Homo sapiens: one gene and its partners. The protein of the gene in region 2 interacts with the protein of the main gene of each other region in a biochemical or structural test. Each region holds a gene or a part of one and is shown on either strand. Other genes may lie near its edges.

Evidence for each region.
Region 1: the proteins of RACGAP1 (region 2) and PPP2R5E interact in far-western blotting, tested with the Homo sapiens proteins (one study listed by IntAct).
Region 3: the proteins of RACGAP1 (region 2) and SHCBP1 form a complex in vitro, tested with the Homo sapiens proteins (one study listed by BioGRID).

Annotation. Positions count from the first base shown.
Region 1 is NC_000014.9:63,533,089-63,540,896, reverse strand, and holds part of PPP2R5E (serine/threonine-protein phosphatase 2A 56 kDa regulatory subunit epsilon isoform), read left to right. Parts: intron 1-1,203; exon of another isoform or gene 1,204-1,204; 5' UTR 1,205-1,211; coding exon 1,212-1,368; intron 1,369-7,808. UniProt on the Homo sapiens protein: The B regulatory subunit might modulate substrate selectivity and catalytic activity, and might also direct the localization of the catalytic enzyme to a particular subcellular compartment.
Region 2 is NC_000012.12:50,001,131-50,008,938, forward strand, and holds part of RACGAP1 (rac GTPase-activating protein 1), read right to left. Parts: intron 5,507-7,808; coding exon 5,304-5,506; intron 4,263-5,303; coding exon 4,126-4,262; intron 3,175-4,125; coding exon 3,105-3,174; intron 1,171-3,104; coding exon 1,117-1,170; intron 123-1,116; coding exon 42-122; intron 1-41.
Region 3 is NC_000016.10:46,578,091-46,584,187, reverse strand, and holds the end of SHCBP1 (SHC SH2 domain-binding protein 1), read left to right. Parts: intron 1-98; coding exon 99-185; exon of another isoform or gene 186-186; intron 187-530; coding exon 531-672; intron 673-2,133; coding exon 2,134-2,459; 3' UTR 2,460-5,597; downstream 5,598-6,097. UniProt on the Homo sapiens protein: May play a role in signaling pathways governing cellular proliferation, cell growth and differentiation. May be a component of a novel signaling pathway downstream of Shc. Acts as a positive regulator of FGF signaling in neural progenitor cells.

The DNA of each region.
Region 1 (7,808 bases), on a different chromosome or scaffold from region 2:
GCATAGATTTCTTTAAGCCTAGATGAGTATCTTTAATGCTTATAATGGAGTGGCACAATACATTAGAGTTCTCATATTGTTTCCGTGATACTTAAATTATTTTCACTAAATTTTCATGTTTTCCTGTTAACATATGACTTTTCTTTTCTTTGTTTGTTTCTTTTTTTTTTTTTTGAGAAGGAGTTTTCCTCTTGCTGCCCAGGCTGGAGTGCAATGGCATGATCTTGGCTCACCACAACTCCGCCTCCCGGGTTCAAGTGATTCTCCTGCCTCAGCCTCCCGAGTAGCTGGGATTACAGGCATGCGCCACCATGCCTGGCTAATTTTTGTATTTTTTTTTTTTTATTAGAGATGGGGTTTCTCCATGTTGGTCAGGCTGGTCTCGAACTCCCAACCTGAAGTTATCTGCCCGCCTTGGGATTACGGGTGTGTGCCACTGTGCCTGGCTTTTTTTTTTTTTTTTTTTGAGATGGACTCTTGCTCTGTTGCCCAGGCTGGAGTGCAGTGGTGCCATCTTGGCTCACCGCAACCTCCGCCTCCCAGGTTCAAGCGGTTCTCCCTTCTCAGCCTCTTGAGTAGCTGAGATTACAGGTGCATGCCACTGCGCCTGGCTAATTTTTGTATTTTTAGTAGACACAGGGTTTCACCATGTTGGCCAGGCTAGTCTCGAACTCCTGACCTCAAGTGATCCACCCACCTCGGCCTCCCAAAGTGCTGGGATTACAGGTGTGAGCCACCGGGCCCAGCCCTTTTTTTTTTTTTTTTTAAAGGACGGAATCTCACTCTGTCACTCAGGCTGGATGGAGTGCAATGGCGGGATCCTGGCCCACTGCAACCTCCACCTCCCAGGTTCAAGCGATTCTTTCACCTCAGCCTCCCGGGTAGCTGAGATTACAAGCACCTGCCATCATGCCCGGCTAATTTTTGTAATTTTGTAGAGACTGAATTTCACCATGTTGTCCAGGTTGGTCTTGAACTCCTGACCTCAAGTGATCCACCCATCTCAGCCTCCCAAAGTGCTGGGATTACAGGCGTGAGCCATTGCACCTGGCCAAGATAAGACTTTTCTTAACTGATTTTATTTTCTTTAGCACATATTCCCATTTTCATGAATATTGTATATGGGAATTTTAGAATTTGTATAACTCACATGTATGCTTCCACCTTGGGAATGTATGGGTTTATGATACTTCTTTCTCTTCAGTAGGGATATGTCCTCAGCACCAACTACTCCTCCATCAGTGGATAAAGTAGACGGATTTTCTCGGAAGTCCGTCAGAAAAGCCAGACAGAAGAGGTCGCAAAGTTCCTCACAGTTTAGGTCTCAAGGCAAGCCTATTGAGTTAACACCTCTGCCGCTGCTAAAAGGTAAGGCTCATGACCAGGTGATGCATTCTTTTTCAATTGATCTTTCTACATCTATATATAATTTCCTTTTTGTAGAGTTTTATATGTGTTGCAAATTGAAGGGATGGGATACTTCACATACATTGAAGTTACTAATGTGTGACCAAATATACCCACTCTCCTTTTTAAAGGCTCAATTTAGTCTGTCTTTGGGCAAGTTAAAAGAAACATTATCAGGAGAATATCTCACATTGATGAGTAGGTAAACTAAGTACTAGAGAAACTTTAAGATGTCTGGGTTTGTGTTTTTCATTTTTTCTTCTGTTGACGTTTAGGGATACATTATATACAATGACAACTACAGATTATGGTCTTAGGAAGTAGACCCTAGTAGAGGAGATGGTACCATTCATTAATTTACATATAGAAAATGGTATTTGGAAGAATTCGTTTTTAAAAATCAAGAAAAAAATGGTCCATTTATAGTTGTTTACATGCACTCTTGTTTTCACATAGTACAAGTAGAAAAGATATACCTTTCTATGTACAAGTATGATGATCATACTTGTTTAGTATGATCTTTTCTTTGAAATTTGTTAATTTTTTAATTTTAATTTTTATCTTTTGAGATAGAGTCTCCCTCTGTTGCTCAGGCTGGTTCACAGCAACCTCCACCTCCTGGGTTCAAGTGATTTTCCTGCCTCAGCTTCCCGAGTAGCTGGGAGCACAGGTGCCCGCCACCATGCCCAGCTAATTTTTGTATTTTTAATAGAGACAGGGTTTCACCATGTTGGTCAGGCTGGTCTTGAACTCCTGACCCCAAGTGATCTGCCCACCTTGACCTCCCAAAGTGCTGGGATTACAGGTGTGAGCCACCGTGCCTGGCCTGAAATTTGTTAAAAACAAGTTTTTTGGTTTTTTAAATTTTCTTTTGAGACAATCTCATGCTGTCACTCTGGCTAGAGTTCAGTGGGGACAGAGTGAAAGTGCAGGTTGAGGCCGGGCGTGGTGGCTCACGCCTGTAATCCCAGCACTTTGGGAGCCCGAGGCAGGCAGATCACGAGGTCAGGAGTTTGAGACCAGCCTGGCCAACATGGTGAAACCCTGTCTCTTCTAAAAATACAAAAATTAGGCGCGGTGGTGGCACCTGTAATCCCAGCTACTCGGGAAGCCGAGGCAGGAGAATTGCTTGAACCGGGAGGCAGAGGTTGAAGTGAGCCCAGATCGTGCCATTGCATTCTAGCCTGGGTGACAGAGCAAGACTCTGTCTCGGGGGAAAAAAAAAAAAGAAAGTGCAGGTTGGGGCTCACTGTGGCCTCTATTTCCTAGGCTCAAGTGATCCTCCCTTTCCCGAGTAGCCGGGATCAACTTCCCGAGTAGCTGGGACTACAGAAGCATGCCATCACGCCCAGCTAATTTTTCCATTTTTTTGTAGAGATGGAGTTTTGCCATGTTGCACAGGCTGGTCTCGAATTGCCATGGTGTTCCCATGCCAGGATTTAGGCGTGAGCCACCATGCCCGGCCCAACACGTTTTTAATATGAAGAATTTTTTCTAAATTAGGCATTTCAACTTTTGTTTGGGTATGTGGTTACTTTTTGTCCCTTTTAATTTTCATCATGTTTGCTTCATGTTTATGAACAGGTGTTGTTTGAAAAATATCAGAACATAGCTTTTATAGTGTGGAAACTATCAGAATTTACCTTTGAGGTGGATGTTTATGTGCTGAATACTGAAGAATGGGAGAAAGGGGATATGAACAACACAATGAGCTTTAGTGTGGCTTGGAGGAAACCAGGCAACCTGGTTTGCTAGTTCATTATTGCAGACTTATTTCTGTAACAGTTTGTGAAATCAGAAGGTATTATAAGAAAAACTGGAATGTAACCGGAAAAGATCCTCAAAATTTAGCTTAGGATATTTCAAGCTTCTATTTTTTCCATATGAATACTTTTTTTAAAAAAGAGAGAGAGATTCATAAATAAGATTCCAATGTTTATACAAAATTTTTGGAAACTGAATACTGATTACTGTAAAGATGATATATCTACCAGTCAGTAAAGATGAGCTCCTGTGAGCTTTGGGGGAGAAAATTTTGACTAGAGATTTTGCTGGTAAAAATGAAAATAGTCATTATGAGGCTTTGGAAAGAAAATGTAGGAAACACTGTAGATTGAACTATGCTTGAAATACAAAGTTGGGAGACACTGGTTTTTAGTAATCTATTTAATCTGAAGTAGATATGTAATGGGTGTTAACTTCTGTATCTGTAAAGGACTTCATTCTGAGGAAGCCAGTTAAATTTTTTTTTTTAGAATTAGAAGGAATTTAAAAACTTACACTAATTTCTTGGATCTTATGGTAAACAATTAAATTAGGACTTCACTGACCACTCATAGTCAGGGTATTGGTTTTGTGGGTAGTGAAAGAAGCATGCATGAGAAGAATTTGGACACATGCTTTAATGTATTTTTTCTTTAATGCTTTCATGTCTTTTTTCTCATTTTAAAAAATTATGGTAAAATATACATAACATGAAATTTACCATCTTAACCATGTTTAAATGTGCATTAAGTGCCTTGACATTGTCATGCAACTGTCCCTACCATCCATCTCCAGAACCTTTTCATCTTCCCCAACTGAAGCTCTGTACCTGTTAAACACTGACTCCCTGTTTCCCCCACCAGCCCTTGGCAACCGCCATTCTGTTTTTTGTTTCTATGAATTTGACTACTCTAGGTACCTCCTATAAGTGATGCCATGCAATATTTGTCTTTTTGTGACTGGCTTATTTCACTTAGTCAAGTGTCTTCAGTGTTCATCTCTGTTGTAGCAGGTGTCAGAATTTCATTCTTTTTTAAGGCTGAATAATTTCAGTGTATATACATACCATATACTTTTTAATCCATTAATTCATTGGTGGACACTTGGGTTGCTTCCACCTTCAGGCTATTGTGAATAATGCTGCTGTGACCATGATGTACAGATACCTGTTTAAGTTCTGGCTTTCATTTCTTTTGGGTATGTACCCAGACGTGTAATTGCTGGATCATATGTTGAATTTTTCAGGAATTGCCATACATATTGCCACAGCAACTGGACCATTTTTCATTCCCATTAGCAATGCATGAGGGTTCCAGTTTTCTATATCCTCACCATCACTCATTTTCTGCTTTTTAATTTTTTGATAGTAGTCATTATAATAGGTATGAAGTGGTATTTCAGTGTGATTTTTATTTGCATTGCCCTAATGATTAGTGATGTTGAGCATCTTTTCCTGTGCTTTTTGGCCATTTCTGTATCCTTTTTCTCACTTTTAAAAGTGAAGTCTGCTAGTGTTGCCAGTTTTCCAAGAACTCTGCTTTCCAAGAATGTGATTTTTTGAACTTGTATATTTTGCCAGTATGAGAGAATTGGAGAGTAACAGGACTATATACTCACAAACCTAATTCCAGAGTGACTAACAGTGATTGTTATGTAGTAAGCACATTCTGGGTAAATACTCTGGAAAGTATTCTATAAATTAGAAATCCATCTCTGTCTGTAGAATAACATAAGGAAGTATAATCAGAAATAGACTTCAGTAATGTGTATTTGCTCTTGATTTTCTAGGAAGTAATTTATGGAATATAAAGAAAATGTAGGAGGAATTTCTTTTCTAGGATTTTATTTTTTTTGGCCATTGCCTTAAGAGAAACCAGGATAAACACTATATGCATGCTAAGGGTAGTTATTGATTTAATTTTCTATAGTATTGCTTTGACTAAATTGGGTTAATTTTATTTGGAGTACAATATAAAATATGGTTGAATTTTGTGAGTTGTTTTAAATAATGAAGTCAAAGAGGTGTCCTTAAGGTCTTTAATTTCAGGGGAGTTTGAATACGATAATTATACAAACAGTGATTATGTAACTCATCTTTTAATATGTCATTTTTGAATGCTCAGATATGCATTAATAACCACTCGTTTTGTGCATGCATTATCAGAATGTTTATTATATGCATCATAATCTTTGATTTATAAATAATACTGCATTAATTCTTAGCGTTTTAAAGTCTGTTCACTTGCAAAACTGCAACATAATGTGAAGGGAAAGTTTTTGTTTTGCCCTATTTCTTTTTTTTTTGAGATGGAGTTTTGCTCTTGTTGCCCAGGCTGGAGTACAGTGGTGCGATCTCAGCTCACTGCAACCTCTGCCTCTTGGTTCAAGTGATTCTCTTGCCTCAGGCTCCTGAGTAGCTGGGATTGCAGGTGCCCACCACCACACCAAGCTAATTTTTTTGTATTTTTAGTAGAGACGTGTTGAGACCAGCCAGGCTGGTCTCAAACTCCTGACCTCAGGTGATCCACCTGCCTTGGCCTCCCAAAGTGCTGGGATTACAGGCGTCAGTCACTGCGCCCAGCCTATTTTGCCCTATGTCTAATAGGTGGGGTTTTGAAATCTGTATCACTGATGTTATTTCCTGTAGAAAGCAACACCACCTGTAATTCTGTATAAATCTACCTGGTTTTTCCGTATCTGTGTGTTAGGAAATTATAGGATGAACTTTGCAAAGATAGACATTTACATTTTCTCCATCTTTATATGCTTTTGTGAAAGTGTTCTTGGAGAGCCTTAACATTTTTGAGGCTGGGTATGGTGGCTCACACCTATAATCCCAGCACATAGGGAGACAGAGTTGGGAGGCTCGCTTAAGCCCAAGAGTTTGAGACCAGCCTACGCAACATAGTGAGACCTCATCTGTACAAATAATTTAAAAAATTAGCCAGGGTGGTGGTGTACACCTGTGGTCCCAGCTACTTGGGAGGCTGAGGCAGAAGGATTGCCCGAGCCCAGGAGGCTGAGGCTGCAGTGAGCTGTGATTGTTCCACTGTGTCCAGTGTGGCTGACAGAGTGAGACCTTTGTCTCAAAATAAAAACATTTTTTTCTTTGAGTCTAAAAGATTCTTACTCATTCACTGATAGGGAAAACCTAGTAGAGGTTTAGTGCCTTACTTACTTGATAAGAAAGTAAAATCTTGGGGGAGGCCGACAGGGGGCGGGTCATTTGAGGTCAAGAGTTTGAGACCAGCCTGGCCAACAGGGTAAAACCCCATCTCTGCTAAAAATCCAAAAATTCGTGGATGTAGTGGTGTGCATCTATAATCCCAGCTACTCAGGAGGCTGAGGCAGGAGAATCACTTGACCCCGGGAGGTGGAGGTTGCAGTGAGCTCATATTGTGCCACTATAAACTCTGTCTTAAAAAAAAAAAGAAAGTCAAGACTTGGATACTTTCCTTACACTTACACAGCAGGACATGAAGCAAGCCTTGACTGTTATCTAGGTAAGTTGTTGAGTAAGACAGTCAAACTAAACAGTTAGGCAAACACACAAACACACACACAAATTTATGTTAATAATAATCAGTGGTAGTAGCACCTGGCTGGGTGATTTATGTTCTCTCCTCACCCCAGCCTCCTGTGCCTCATTTCCTTGCGTTGACTTTAAGCAATTCTGTAAGTTTAGATTTGGGTGAACGTTTTCTGAAGAATACTGCCTCTTTGAAGATGGAATTATAGTGAAAGTAGCATTGTTATTTCTTTTGTTTGTTTGTTTTTCTGAGACAGAGTCTCGCTCTGTCACCCAGGCTGGAGTGCAGTGGCGCAATCTCGGCTCACTGCAACCTCTGCCTCCCAGGTTCAAGTGATTCTCCTGCCTCAGCCTGCGGAGAGTAGCTGGGATTACAGGTGTCTGCCACCACATCCGGCTGATTTTTATATTTTTAGTAGAGACGGGGTTTCTCCATGTTGGCCAGGCTGGTCTCGAACTCCTGACCACAGGTGCGTCCGCCTGCCTAGGCCTCCCAAAGTGCTGGGATTCTTGGCATGAGCCACCGCGCCCGGCCGCCATTGTTATTTCTTGTCTCACAATTCATTATACATTTCCGAGGCATTTTGCAGATAGTTTGTACATTCACTTTTAGATATTCTTACAACTATGATGACTAGACGGAGTTTAGCTCTTGTTGCCCAGGCTGGAGTGTAATGGTGCGATCTCGGCTCACCACAGCCTCTGCCTTCCGGGTTCAAGCCATTTTCCTGCCTCAGCCTCCCAAGTAGCTGGGATTACAGGCATGCGCCTCCATGCCCGGCTAATTTTGTATTTTTAGTAGAGATGGGGTTTCTCCATGTTGGTCAGGCTGGTCATGAACTCCTGACCTCAGGTGATCTGCCTGCCTCGGCTTCCCAAAGTGCTGGGATTACAGGCGTGAGCCACCGTGCCCGGCCGTTTTCGTGCCTTTTTAATGATTGCCTTTTTCGTCTATATCTGCTTTGTGTATAGTAAAGTAGGCACATGCAATATAATACCAGATTTTTATAACGAGTGAATGTGCTAAAACCTATTAGAATAAGAATAGTCTCTTAAGAGGCCAGGTACAGTAAATAACTCACACCTTTAATCCCAGCACTTTGGCAGG
Region 2 (7,808 bases):
GGGGCCAGTAATCTCTGTTACCTTGGCCTGACTATTCTTACCTGGTCTACTGCAGAGCCAATGGAACGAGTTTTCTTTACAGGTCCAGGGGGACCATCAACAAACTGTCGGCTAGTAGAGCGCTAGAAAGGAGACAAAGACCCGTAACTTTAATGCCAAGCAGATCTGAAGCACAGAAGATAAAATTATTCCATCAAACAACTTGGATACAGGTCCTGGGGATTAGGGCTACAGTAAATAACAAACAATGTGTTCTCTCTCTCTCTCTCTTTGCCTATTTCCACATGAAGAATAAGCTGTTTCAAAAGAATATGTTGTACAAAAATGCTCTCAGTGCCCTAGAAAAAATGAGCAAGCTATGGAGAAATTTAGATGACACCACCAGAAAAAGTACAGCTGTAATCCTAACTAAGGACATGAAGTCTTGGAAACACATTAAGTACCCTAAACAAGCATACACAGATAGATCTCTATATATCCCATTATATGAAGCTTATATTAGAGCACAAAAGTTCTGTGTAAAAATTCATATGACAATTCAAAACAAACTTAAGTTTATCCTTTTCCACTGTATGAATGAATTGAAATGCAGCCTAAACAGTGAAATGGACAGGATTCTGTCCTAAGTTACTACTTCAAAGAGTACCAGTACTGGTTGGGAGCAGTGGCTCACGCCTGTAATCCCAGCACTTTGGGAGGCCGAGGCAGGTGGATCACCTGAGGTCAGGAGTTCAAGACCAGCCTGGCCAACATGGTGAAACCCCGTTTCTACTAAAAATACAAAAATTAGCCAGGCATGGTGGCAGGCACCTGTATCCCAGCTGCTTGGGAGGCCGACGCAGGAGAATTGCTTGAACCCGGGAGGCGGACGTTGCGTTCAGCCGAGATCGCGCCATTGCACTCCAGCCTGGGAAATGAGCAAAACTCCGTCTCAAAAAAAAGAAAAAAAAAAAAAAAAAAGAATATCAATACTGTCCCCACAGCATGAATTCATCTGTAGTATGTGCTTAACAATGGCTAGAGCAACATGACAGGAATGCAGTATCATGGCAAAATTTCCAAAAATAACTCCATTATTACTTTGTTTTAAAAAAAGACTAAACAAATCATACATACCCTCTTTTCTCTCTTCTTCAGTTTGAAAGTCTTCACCAAAGAAGAGTCCCAATCCTGTTGACAATTACACTGTATTAATTTCTTTTTTTGGTTAGGCCATCCCTAAACCCTGTGCAAATAAATTTACAGAGAACTTTAAAGGCTTCTTCAGTCAGGCTACCTAACGTACAATTCGGGGAGGGTTAGAGAAGGGAAGGTCTCAAGTGTTGTAGCTATAGAGCTATAGTAAGTTAATGTGCTTTCTTTGAAAAATTGAAGCTATTATAATAAAATCAGGAATCAATACCACAGAGGCAAGAAGAGGTTAAAGAATCAAATTCTGCCATATTTCCAGTGGCTGATCCTTTATTTCTGATTATTTTTGTAATTAGTTTTAGAACTTACAGAATGTTAGGCACTATACTGATTGTATTAGATGTGATTCTTGCCCCCAAGGGATTGCCACTGTCTAATCAAATGCTCTGCATAATATTGCCACTTCACAAGTTCCACAGTTGCCAGGCGATGGCTCATGCCTGTAATCCCAGCACTTTGAGAGGCCAAGGTGGGCGGATCATGAGGTCAGGATATCGAGACCATCCTGGCTAACACGGTGAAACCCCGTCTCTACTAAAAAAATACAAAAAAATTAGCCAGGCGTGGTGGCGGGCGCCTGCAGTCCCAGCTACTCTGGAGGCTGAGGCAGGAGAATGGCATAAACCCGGGAGGCGGAGCTTGCAGTGAGCTGAGATTGCGCCACTGCATTCTAGCCTGGGTGACAGAGTGAGACTCTGTCTCAAAAAAAAAAAAAAAAAAAAAGTTCTACAGTTTAGGAACTTAGGCCCTAAAACGTGTCCACCACTGAAGAACTATTTGTCTTTTATTGTGGTCTCATTTCAATTCACCTATTTTAACTATTTGCATTCATTTTAGTAGTTACCTGTGATTTCCTTACTCCTGATCATCCCTGAAAACAGTATCTAGAAACAGTGGTATACAGCAAATAATAGCTTAGCTAAATAAATTTAACTTCCCCAAGTCATGGTCCAGTAATTTAGTTACTGGTTGTTTGATTCAGCTTCAGTTACAAGAAATATCGTATCATAGGTCTAGCTCAAAAATCAACTGATAATATGATCTAGTTTTATTATATATTCCAGACCTCCACTATATCATTCCCTATTTGAGAAAGGTGATGCCTAATATTTTTATCTATAAAATGGCCGTATTTTCCCTGGTCAAACACTGAATCTGAACAGAAAACTCCTAGCCATGTAACAAATAGTTGTCACCTGTTTTGCTATACCAGAAAACCAGTCACCAAAAACTTCCTGATTTGTTTTGTTTGCTAGTTTTCAGCTAGTAACAGAAAAGATGCACAAATCAATGAACTATATCAAAGACTGTATCAGGAGATGACCTTTTATGCAGAAGCATCACTGTAAGTTAAAAGAAGTGTGCCGCCCCATAAAAGCAGGGCAACAAATAGTTTAACATGTTAACCATTGTTGATGAAAGCATTATATAGTGCCTAGAAACTCTAATCACACTTTTCTGGCTGAAATCCCAGGACCTTGGTTTCCTTCTAATTGTGAAGTATGACTATGCTTTCCCCAAGAACCAAACTAATTCAGAAATAAGGCACAAGTCTATTTAAGAGCAGCAAATAAACCCTGACGACATACAGTCTTGCTAATATTTTTATTATTAGCTGGGGCTTTAATAAGTCAAAATATAATCAGTTAGTACATGTGGCACACAGAGATCTATTAAATGAACTCAACTTATGCCAAATTCTGAATTATATATTCTCACTTCAGAAACTAATATATAAGCCAGCCTCTTATAGCTCATGTGGATTTATATTTTAAATTGCTAGCTCAGAATCTATAACACATCAACTAATAAAATAGTAATATAGGATGTTCAGAAGAGAAGACAGGAGAGATATTCCTGGGGAAGCAGAGGTAAGAAAAGTAGGTAATTCTCAGAGATCAAATGTTTATTACCAGTGATTCATCAGTCTTGTCAAAGCTGATATCTGATAAAATGGAACCAGATTCATCAATGGTTGATAGTCTAGATCAGTGAAACAATACAACGTTAGACATGGTAGACTGTGGAATGTAAAATTCACCAACATTCAGAACAAGTCCTACTGGTCAGGTAACATCAGTTAATTTCATAGCAAAATCTTCACTATAGAGACAATTACAATCTCAAACCCTGTGGTAGGCTACTTTGTATGGTTTCCACGGAGGAGTGTGTGTGCATGAGTACAGGTGCAACACAGTTGCTTTTTCAGCAAAGACCTTATAAGGGCAGTTGAAAGTTAGTCAGGGTTATGGGTGCTATTCTCTACCGAGTTTGTATTACAGGCTACTCCAAATTCACAAAATCAAGGGAATGAAGTTTAATTTGATCCCAACTGTGCTGGTTTCTACAAACAAGAGTATTACCCAACACTGACTTTTTAAGAAATTAAGCCTGTACATCTTCTTAGTTATAAAGATTCCCCATAAAACAACCAGGCAACAAAATAAATAGCTGACCTTTCCCTACATATTGTACTGGGGATGTTAAATTCAAAGCCTGGTTGAGACTATTTTAAACAGTGGTGCAGTGGAACCAAAATTATTGTCTGGTCTTGGCTCACAGAGGCCTTTCTAAACCAGAAGAGCTGTAAGAGCTCTCTGGAGAGTAAACACTGAAAGTATTGCTGAACTGCCACTTTCACCTTTGGGTTTCTTAGCAATGCACAGGATTAGTTATTGATGTGCAATTTAGCACCAACATCAAAATTGTATCCATGGTGAAACAACATCCTTAGGAAAGATTTAAAAATAAAATAAAATAAAATATACAGGGACATCCCTGTGCCTTTATTCCCCACCTACTCTCCCCACAAAATCTTTTTCTGCTTTTTTCAGCACACATTCTAGAAGAAGTATATTTAAGAATTCAGATAACAAGAATATCTGACAGCCTGTGTTGCTTGTGATAGGATAACAACAGATGCAGTTCCTCCACCTTTTGTTCCCAGCATTGCTGCTGGATGGTTGGCCTCTGTTGAGAAAAGCCAGAGCTGATTTTTGCTCCTCGCTTAGTTGAATGCTGCCAGATGTGTCACACATGAGCATCTCTCGAATCAGCTGAATCTGTCGTTCCTACAGACCAAAGCAAAGTAAAACATCATAACTAGCCAGGGGAGAAAGCTTCACCTCAAGTTTATGGGACAGGCAGACCAGAAGACATTAAAATGCAGCATTATGCAAATGGACCTTCAGGAAGGCTGCTACACCAATAGCATATTAATTCACATCAAACCCAGATTGTGTCTCTGATTTCTGACTGGTAAAATGAACTACATCTAGAACAGCGAAGTTTCTGCTACAAGACTTTTGGATTAACCTGCTAATCCAAGAGGAGAATAATGCAAAATGAGAGTCCCAAAATAGATTTCACATAGCAAAAACACTTTAGTGTCATTTTATCAGGACAAATATTGGCTTCTACGGATCAAAGCAGCCACCCACCTCTCAAAGTAGTGGAGCAAAATGCATTAAAATGGATACAAAGCTATAATGCACTGGAACCAGACAATTTGAGTTTACTGAGGCATCTAACACTGTATACCAAGATGGATTAGTCCCTCCCAGTAAAGGCTTTCCTTTGCATTATGACCCATCCTGGCACATCAAAATGATAGTGTTCTGTGTCAGTCACATTGCTCAACTGGTTGAATACATCTAGCCTTTTACCCTGAATTAGAGAGGGGTGATGAAAAGAAGAGTCACAGTTGTCTTGCCTGTATGTATGACAAAGTACCAGCTACTCATGTAAGGATGGATATTCCGGGTAGCACTTAAAATAAACAATGAAGGATGGCCAATAACTTGTGACAGATCAAGTACGTTAGGATCTCCCTCCCTCCCTTTTCCTCTAATTCTTTAAGTTCTCATTTGAAATCTGTCTGTTAAGTAAGTTTCAAGTCTAAGTGACAAAAACATTTAAATTTCAAATTATGAAGAACAAGATTCCTAGTCTGCAATTTCAGCTCTAATCATGGGCAAGCTGTTAAAGAACAGGTCACTTTCAGTTCTTTAATGTGGAAGAAGAAACTAGGTATATTTGGCAAGTGGAAACTGTCAGACAATGCCTTCCCCCTCCTGCATCATCACTGTTCTAGCACGGAAAACAATACACACCAGCTTTTCGCAGTCAGCCTCAGCTCTCTGTCTCCGTTTGATCTCTACATCCACCTGATTACGTGCATGCTTCAGCTTAACATCCAGAGCACTTCGCTCAGTCTCTGCTTTCATCAAAAGATCCTTGTATTTCCCCAGCTCATGGTCAGTCCTCTGCCACTTTTTACGGAAATCCTCAAAGTCCTTCGCCAACTGGATAAATTCTGAGGAAAGGGGGAATCTTTAATAATTCAAGCACCAAACAGAGTATAACTGCTCTAATAAATGAGTCCTACGGTTAGCTTTATTTGAAATTCATAATTAAGGAACCAGCTGAACTATGGGCAAATCCAGCTGAAAATAACTAGGAGCAGATCCTGGATATGTTTGTCACTCTGATGAGAACTTTGTGGGTAGCAATTCCTATTCAATAGGCCACTTACTTTTGGCTTAGCCAGTGGCATCTGCTATGGAATATGTAACTCATTAGTCACCTGGCTCCAGATGTAACACTAACACTGAAAGCTCCTGAACAGAAGGCAATCAAAGGGGGATACCTTTGGGGCAGCTGTCATGCACCAGGACAGTTACAGCTATAAAACAAAAACAGTTTCCTTTACAGTCACGCATTGCTGCACCAGAGAGATGTTAAACAGCAAATTCAAATGTAACTGCTGTAATATGCTCCAGTAGATGTAGATTAATATTACAGATGTCTAGACCTACAATTCCATTTGGCTATATAATTATACAAATATTGATTTGAAAGTAAAAAGCCAATTTGCTTTTGCTGTTTAACACTGCCCTGAAGGGTATGTAAACATTCCAGTTGAAAAAAAAAAAAACAGGAAGAGAAGATCAAACTAGCTTTTGGAACATCCCTGATAGCAGAATGTGAAGTCTCTTCAAATGTCTGCAAAGAGAACATCACTTCCAAGGCAGCATCTCAAAGGAAGAAGATAACCCTGTTGGCATTCATTCTTATCTCCTGCTATTGGCAAAGCTGTTCTGCAATGTATTTGCAAAAGTGCCTTACAATTTTCTAGTTAACCTCCGTCTATCTCTAAGGATCACTCTCCACCAACATCAAGGAAGAAGGTCTCAAGGTGTACATCTGCTGCTGGTCAAACTAACCCAGTTAAAACTGAAACTAGGCCAAATTCACACACAGCTAGCAGATTCTTAGGTAGTAAGGGCACTTTTCCCCTATGAATTTAACCTAAAAGCATAGAAACAATACATAGTCCTTTTTAAACAATTTTAATCATTTGACCAAATATCAAACTTACAAATCAGGATACCAATTTGTTCCAGAAAAACCAAGTAATAAGGAAACTTTAGTTTTTACAAACCACAAATTTCAGCAAAATAGGTTATTATGACCTAGTTATCTTAAACAATGCGGATATCAACAATTAAAAAAATATTACAATTCAAATAGTTTTAAGAAATAATATGCTGGGTTAGTCTGGAACATACTACTTTTTTGTGGGTTTTTTTTTTTAGCTTAAAGAAAAAAACATATATGTTTGCAAACTAAATACCGTATGCATACACACTCAAAATATTTACCGAACTGAAAAACAATTTTGAGAATAAAAAGATTTTCATCTGACCTAATTTTGCTGGTTTGTTTGTTCTTTAGGATACTCCTTTTATTAAATTACTGCTTCAGCTTAGTTTAAGTCAGACCCAAAGCAGAACATTTACATACCTGATTAATATATTACTTTTTGTGTGTGCAGGTGAGAAATGTGAAAAAAAAAAAAAAAAAAAAAAAAAGATATTACTTTTTTTTTTTTTGAGACAGAGTTTCACTCTTGTTGCCCAGGCAGAAGTGCAATGGCGCAATCTTGGCTCACTGCAATCTCCGCCTCCCAGGTTCAAGCAATTCTCCTGCCTCAGCCTCCTGAGTAGCTGGGATTACAGGTGTGTGTCACCATGCCCAGTTAATTTTTGTATTTGTAGTAGAGACGGGGTTTCACCATGTTGGCCAGGCTGGTCTCAAACTCCTAACCTCAGGTGATTCACCTGCCTTGGCCTCCAAAAGTGCTAGGATTACAGGTGTTAGCCACTGTGCCCAGCCTACTTTTCACTTTTGAGACAGTCTTCCTCTGTCACCCAGACTGGAGTGCAGTAGCACAATCTTGGCTCACCGCAACCTCCGCCTCCCAGGTTCAAGCAACTCTCCTGCCTCAGCTTCCTGAGTAACTGGGACTACAGGCGTGTGCCATCACACCTGGCTAATTTTTGTATTTTAACTAGAGATGGGGTTTCACCACGTTGGCTAGGCTGGTCTCAAACTCCTGACCTCAAGTGATTGACCTGCCTCAGCCTCCCAAAGTGCTAGGATTATAGGCATAAGCCACCATGCCCGGCCGAAAGATACTATTTTTATGTACAATTCTGCTATGAGCAAAGTTTGCTGGGATTGGGTCAGAAGGCATTTTGGGCCATAGATCAGAAACAATTTTGATGTTGAAGACCAATAATCATGGCACTGTTTTGGTCAGTTGGTGAATCACA
Region 3 (6,097 bases), on a different chromosome or scaffold from region 2:
ATTTGTACTGTGTTAAAGGCTAAGAAGTAATTGTAATAAACTCTTATAGTCTTGCCTTTTAAAAACTGATTGTCATTATCTCAAACTGTGACTCACAGGGTGCTGGTATAGAAATCTACCCTGGGAGTCAGTGCACCCTGAGTGACAATGGGATCCATCACTGCAAGGAAGGGATCCTCATTAAGGTGAGCATCAGCCAAAACACCCACTTTTCAATGGATAGAATGGTTTTACCTACAAATTATGCTTTATTAAATTGTTGGGTTCTATTTTCTGGTTTTGAAAAGCATAAACAGTGTACACATTTTGATAATATCAGTGATTGGAATCTCTTGTGAGAATGCTGTTACCTATAGATCTGCAGAAATGACAGAGGAAAGCTGTGTCACTAAGGGTGCAGACTGTGCTACAACATGGGACTAAACATAGCTTTTTCCTTTTATTTTTAGAATAGTGTGAATAAAGAAGATTTTTAAGGCAGGAAATGTTGAATATGACAGTTCCTAAAACATTTGTTTTCAATGTCACAGGACTTCTTAGATGAACATTATGACATTCCCAAGATATCCATGGTGAATAATATAATACATAATAATGAAGGTTATGGTGTTGTCTTGGTGAAACCTACAATCTTCTCTGACCTGCAAGAAAATGCTGAAGATGGAACTGAAGGTATATTTAGTAATTTTTAATATAAAAACCAGACATAATTTATTTCAGCATTAAATGCTGATTAAGGATCTGAGTCTTCCTCTCTTCCTTAAAAAAGGTTGTTGGGATATGCTTGGGCATGGAGAGAGAGAAGCTTGGTAACATTAAGTCATAACATTACAGACTGTGAAAGAAACTTTCAAGGTCAACTAGTTCAACTGTCATTCAAAATCTTGATGTTGTGGTTTCTGTGCAGTTCCCTTCTTATCATGGTTAGCTTTCAATGAGGGTGGATGTGTGATAGCAACGATGGGTGTGTGATAGCAATGGTGGGTGTGTGATGCTATGGTGGGTGTGTGACAGCAACAGTGGGTGTGTGACAGCAATGGTGGCTCCTACTGGCGTTTGTTAAGGCTGGAGACAGTGAAATGAATGTGCCAGGCTGAAGGCTGCATTTCCTGGAGGGGATAGTGGAGTTTACCTCTGTTTTTATTGGTAGAAGTAAATGCCTTCCTGTCACCTGCCTTTCTTGGCAGCGAAGGGGAGCTAACTCAGTGGAAATCTGTGAACTTCAAGCTATGATGTAGACCACTATTAAGTCTCAGTCATAGAGAAGGATTAAGCTTTGATGTAGGTGAGGAAAGTTTAAAGCAGTTTATTTATTTAATCAGCTTTTTCAGGTTGAAAGAGTTTAAAGGGTAGTCCTTGTCATCCTTCAGGATCTGCTCCAGTTACATCTCTGCAAGTTCTTTATTTCTTCACAGGTCTCACAAAAGTAAAATAAAGGTGTCAGCTGGGCAGGACTCATCTGAAAGCTCTGGGGGCAGACTCTGTCTCCAAACGCATTCATATCATTCATGGGCAGAATTCATTCCTTTAGCTCATGGGTCTGAAGTCTCCATTTTCTTGCTGGCTGCTGGCTGTTTGCTGGGGCTGGCACTCAGCTCCTAGAGGCTGCTCTCAGGTTCTTGCCTCATGGCCCCCCCATCTCAGCAACAGAGAACATCCCTCAAGGCAAATCTCTCATGCTCTGAATTTCTCTGACTTCCTCTTTAGCAACCAGCTGGAGAAAACTGATTAGCAATCTTAATTACATTGTAAAATTACAGTGCAAAATTCTTCTGCCATTTAATAGGCATGAAAGTAATACCAGGGGGTGGGGATCATGGGGCCTATCTAGAATTAGCTGCTAGATTGGGACTTCATTTAGAAAAGTGGCACTATCTTATCAATCTGTGCATCCTATCTCCTAACGCAGTGCTTAGCAGATAGTAACTATCCAGGAAATGTCTGTTGAGTAAAAGTGATTCTGGGATGAAAAGGGTAAAGGAAGAGTTCAAAATTGGTGATCCTGTGTGAGGGTCAGGGAACCTTGGTATAGAAAGCAAGGCAGCTGCTTGTTGAGAAGACTGTGTAGAAATATATGTTTTTGTTGGGTTAGCTTGTATATTTAACTTTGTTATTATTTGTTTGTTTCTCCAGAAAATAAAGCGCTTAAAATTCAGACAAGTGGAGAGCCAGATGTGGCTGAAAGAGTGGATCTAGAAGAGCTGATTGAGTGTGCAACTGGTAAAATGGAGCTTTGTGCAAGAACTGACCCTTCTGAGCAAGTCGAGGGAAATTGTGAAATTGTAAATGAACTAATTGCTGCCTCCACACAGAAAGGCCAGATAAAGAAGAAAAGGTTGAGTGAACTGGGGATCACGCAAGCTGATGACAACTTAATGTCACAGGAGATGTTTGTTGGGATTGTGGGGAACCAGTTCAAGTGGAATGGGAAAGGTAGTTTTGGCACATTTCTTTTCTGACTACAGTGATGTAAGTAGATAGCAAAATACTGGATTTTGCACATGCTGCCCTAAGAATCACTGCTGCCATTGTAGTTTGCTGTATTGTCTGTATTTTATATTTGATTATTTGGGCTTGAGTGAAAGGTAGATTTATTTCCATTTGCAGGTGTTGCACATAAAACACTCCCTCTTTATAAGAAAAATCATAAATGCATATAAAATAGAAAATATTTGGAGATTGCTTATCTGAAAGTCTTGCTTTCTTATACACATGGTTCTCTCATATTAAGCCTGGTAGTAACTTTTTAGTGTAATTACCTTTAGCACTTCAAAGACGAGGAAGTAAGGAAGGGAATGCAAGACTAGTGCATAAAAATGCAATAGGTGTCATATGTACAGCATTCTTCTTAGAGTTGCCTTTTCATCCCAATTACAGTGAGTCTGATTTCCATCCTGTATTTGCATAATACTTGTCTTAAAATAAAAGCTTTTATGATTGGGAATTTATCTGCCTAATCAGACTTATTATTGAGACGTCAATGGGACGCATTTTTCTGTTGAGCTATGCAGTCGTCAAAACAGCGATAGACAGCATAGGAGGTTTGAAGCAGAAATGAAATGTGTTATTCAGAGCCAATGTTGTACATAGAGCATTTTCACTATTGCTGAATGGGAATGATTAAAAACAAGGTATTTTTCGGGCCAGGCGGTGGCTCACGCTTGTAATCGCAGCACTTTGGGAGGCTGAGGCAGGAGGATCACTTGAGCCCAGGAGTTCAAGACTAGCCTAGGCAACATAGTGAGACCCTGTCTCTACTAAAAATAAATTTAAAAAAAATTAGCTGAGTGTGGTGGTGCATGCATGTAGTTCCAGCTACTCAGGAGGCTGAGGCTAGAGGATCCTTGAGCCCAGGAGGTTGAGGCTGCAGTGAGGTGTGATTGCGCCACTGCATTCCAGCTTGGGCGACAGAGCGAGACCCAGTCTCAAAAAAAAAAAAAAGTATTTTTCTCTTACCGTTACAGTATTCTGATTATATTACTGACACAGTCAAAATGATTAACTGTACAACCTGTATCTGCTGGGTGTTCTTGTTATCATATTGTAAAACAGCTTTAAAAATATTTATATTTTAAAAACTGTATGTGACATTAATATGCCTAATGATTAAAATTATAGTGATGAAATAACAAAATTGAATCTTGTTATATCTTTTCAAACTCACTGTGGGCCATAGTGTCAGTGTAGCATATGTGGTCATTTAAGAATACATGGTATTTTGGTATCTGTTTTCATGCTTTAGAAAGAGTATTACATTTTTTCCCATTAAGTGTGGTTATGTTTGTTTTTTAAATTTGAGTAAAAAATAATTCTTATTTTTTGGATGCTACTAAATGTAGGATTTATGTTAGATTTATTATTTGATCATTGAAAGGTATTTTTACTTTTAAAAAATCTTGTTGCAAGGAGGTTTAAAAAGTAATGTTCATTTCTGCATCAGTTTCAGCCAAATGTTGATATTAAAACCTTTTATTCTTTTTTTTAATTTTTGCCTCTAGATGTGATGCCTTAAGATAAAAACCATTTATTCAACTTAAAAAAAAATCACTTTTTTTTTTTTTTTGAGATGGAGTCTTGCTCTGTCACCCAGGCTGGAGTGCAGTGGCACTATCTCGGCTTACTGTAACCTCCACCTCCTGAATTCAAGCAATTCTCCTGCCTCAGTCGCCTGAGTAGCTGGGATTATAGGTGCCCGCCACCATGCCCAGCTAATTTTTTTTTTGTATTTATTTTATTTTTATTTTATTTTGTTTTGTTTTTGAGATGGAGCTTCACTTTGTCACCCAGGCTGGAGTGCAGTGGCATGATCTCGGCTCATTGCAACCTCAGTCTCCTGGGTTCAAGTGATTCTCATGCCTCAGCCTCCCAAGTAGCTGGTATGACAGCCACCATGCCTGGCTAATTTTTGTATTTTTAGTAGAGACAGGGTTTAACCATGTTGGCCAGGCTGGTCTCAAACTCCTGACCTCAAGTGATCCACCCACCTTGGCCTCCCAAAGTGCTGGGATTACAGGCATGAGCCACGTGCCTGGCCTTTTTTTTGTATTTTTAGTAGATATGGGGTTTCACCATGTTGCCCAGGCTGTTCTCAAACTCCTGACCTCAAGTGATCCACCCACCTCAGCCTCCCAAATCACATTGATTTTTCAATTGAATTTCTACTTTATCTTGGTTTAGATTTTGTAGATAAGTTAGTAACATTTATACCTTCCTTGTTTCTTTTTATAACATGGAGTTTTTCAGATTTCATGTCTATTTTAGCTTAAATCTAAGCTTATATTAATTTTTATTCACATGATTCATTATAATGAGTAGGCCTACTTTGTTCTTATTTAAGTTATATGCAGTACATTTTGCCTCAATCATGGAGAGTTAAACATCTCAAATGGTATAGCATAGGGAATTTAGGGAGTGCCCTAGAGGGGTATGGGTTTGATATTTGAGATGAAAACACTGATGTGGAGAAAGGATAGCCTTCTGTGTTGACTAATTGTGTGTCCTGTCCTTATGGTCCACTCTTAGTGTGACCTTGAATTTATGGCAGGTAGCAAAATTCTATTTTGCTGATTTGAGTATTTTATTTTAGCTTCTTTAGATGTATTTCCCTTCTTCAGTTTCTTGTTGTATTATTGCACCATAGATATTAACACGAATATATTTTTAAAAACTGCCCAGAGATCATTTGATCTCAAGTGTATATACACTTCACTTTTCTGGAGTTACAGAAGGATGGTGAAATAATCATTTTCTGGATTTTGCTTTTCAGAGGGAGATTGAAGAAAGTTCAATAGAACACTGATGAGCTCATAAGAACCGTGTCGTTCATGTTTCTTTGTAATTCAGTTTGCTGTTTTTATTCTTATTCCTTTCTAGGAAGTACATTCCACAGGCTTCTATGGAAATTAAGTTGAAATAAATTTTGATAATTGGCCTTTGATGCAAAATTTATGCATAGCATTTAATTTTATAACATTTTGTTTTATTCTGTGATTAAATATATATATGTATATGTTTTAAAGTCTTATATGTGGTGAACATTCTCCTCTTTTTTTAGTTCTCACTATTAATAGAAAAAAATATATATTTTAAAAACAAAACAGGTGTAATATATCAATGCTCTGAGAATTGCTATTGCTATTTTCCCTTAATATATTGCAGAAAAATATGTCTGTACATACAAATCCACCTTATTCTTTTGATAGTTGTGTTATAGCCCATTGCTGGAATTCTTTCAGTTGTAAGTGATAGAAACTCAACTGAGAAAGGCTGTATGAGAGTTGGTTCTTGGAACTAAACATCTAAGGATGAGAGCTTGATTACATTTCTTACTTTTATAAGGTTTCTTGACAGTATGAGTTCTGTTTTCTTTCTTTTCCCCTTCCCCTTCCCCTTCCCCTTCCCCTCCATCTCCTTCCCCTTCCCCTCCATCTCCTTCCCCTTCCCCTTCCCCTTCCCCTCCATCTCCTTCCCCTTCCCTTTCCCTTTCCCTTTCCCTCTCCCTTTTCCTTTCCCTTCCCTTCCCTCTCTGTCACCCAGGGTGGAATGCAATGGCGTGATCTTGGCTCACTGCAACTGCCGCCTCCCATGCCTTAATGGA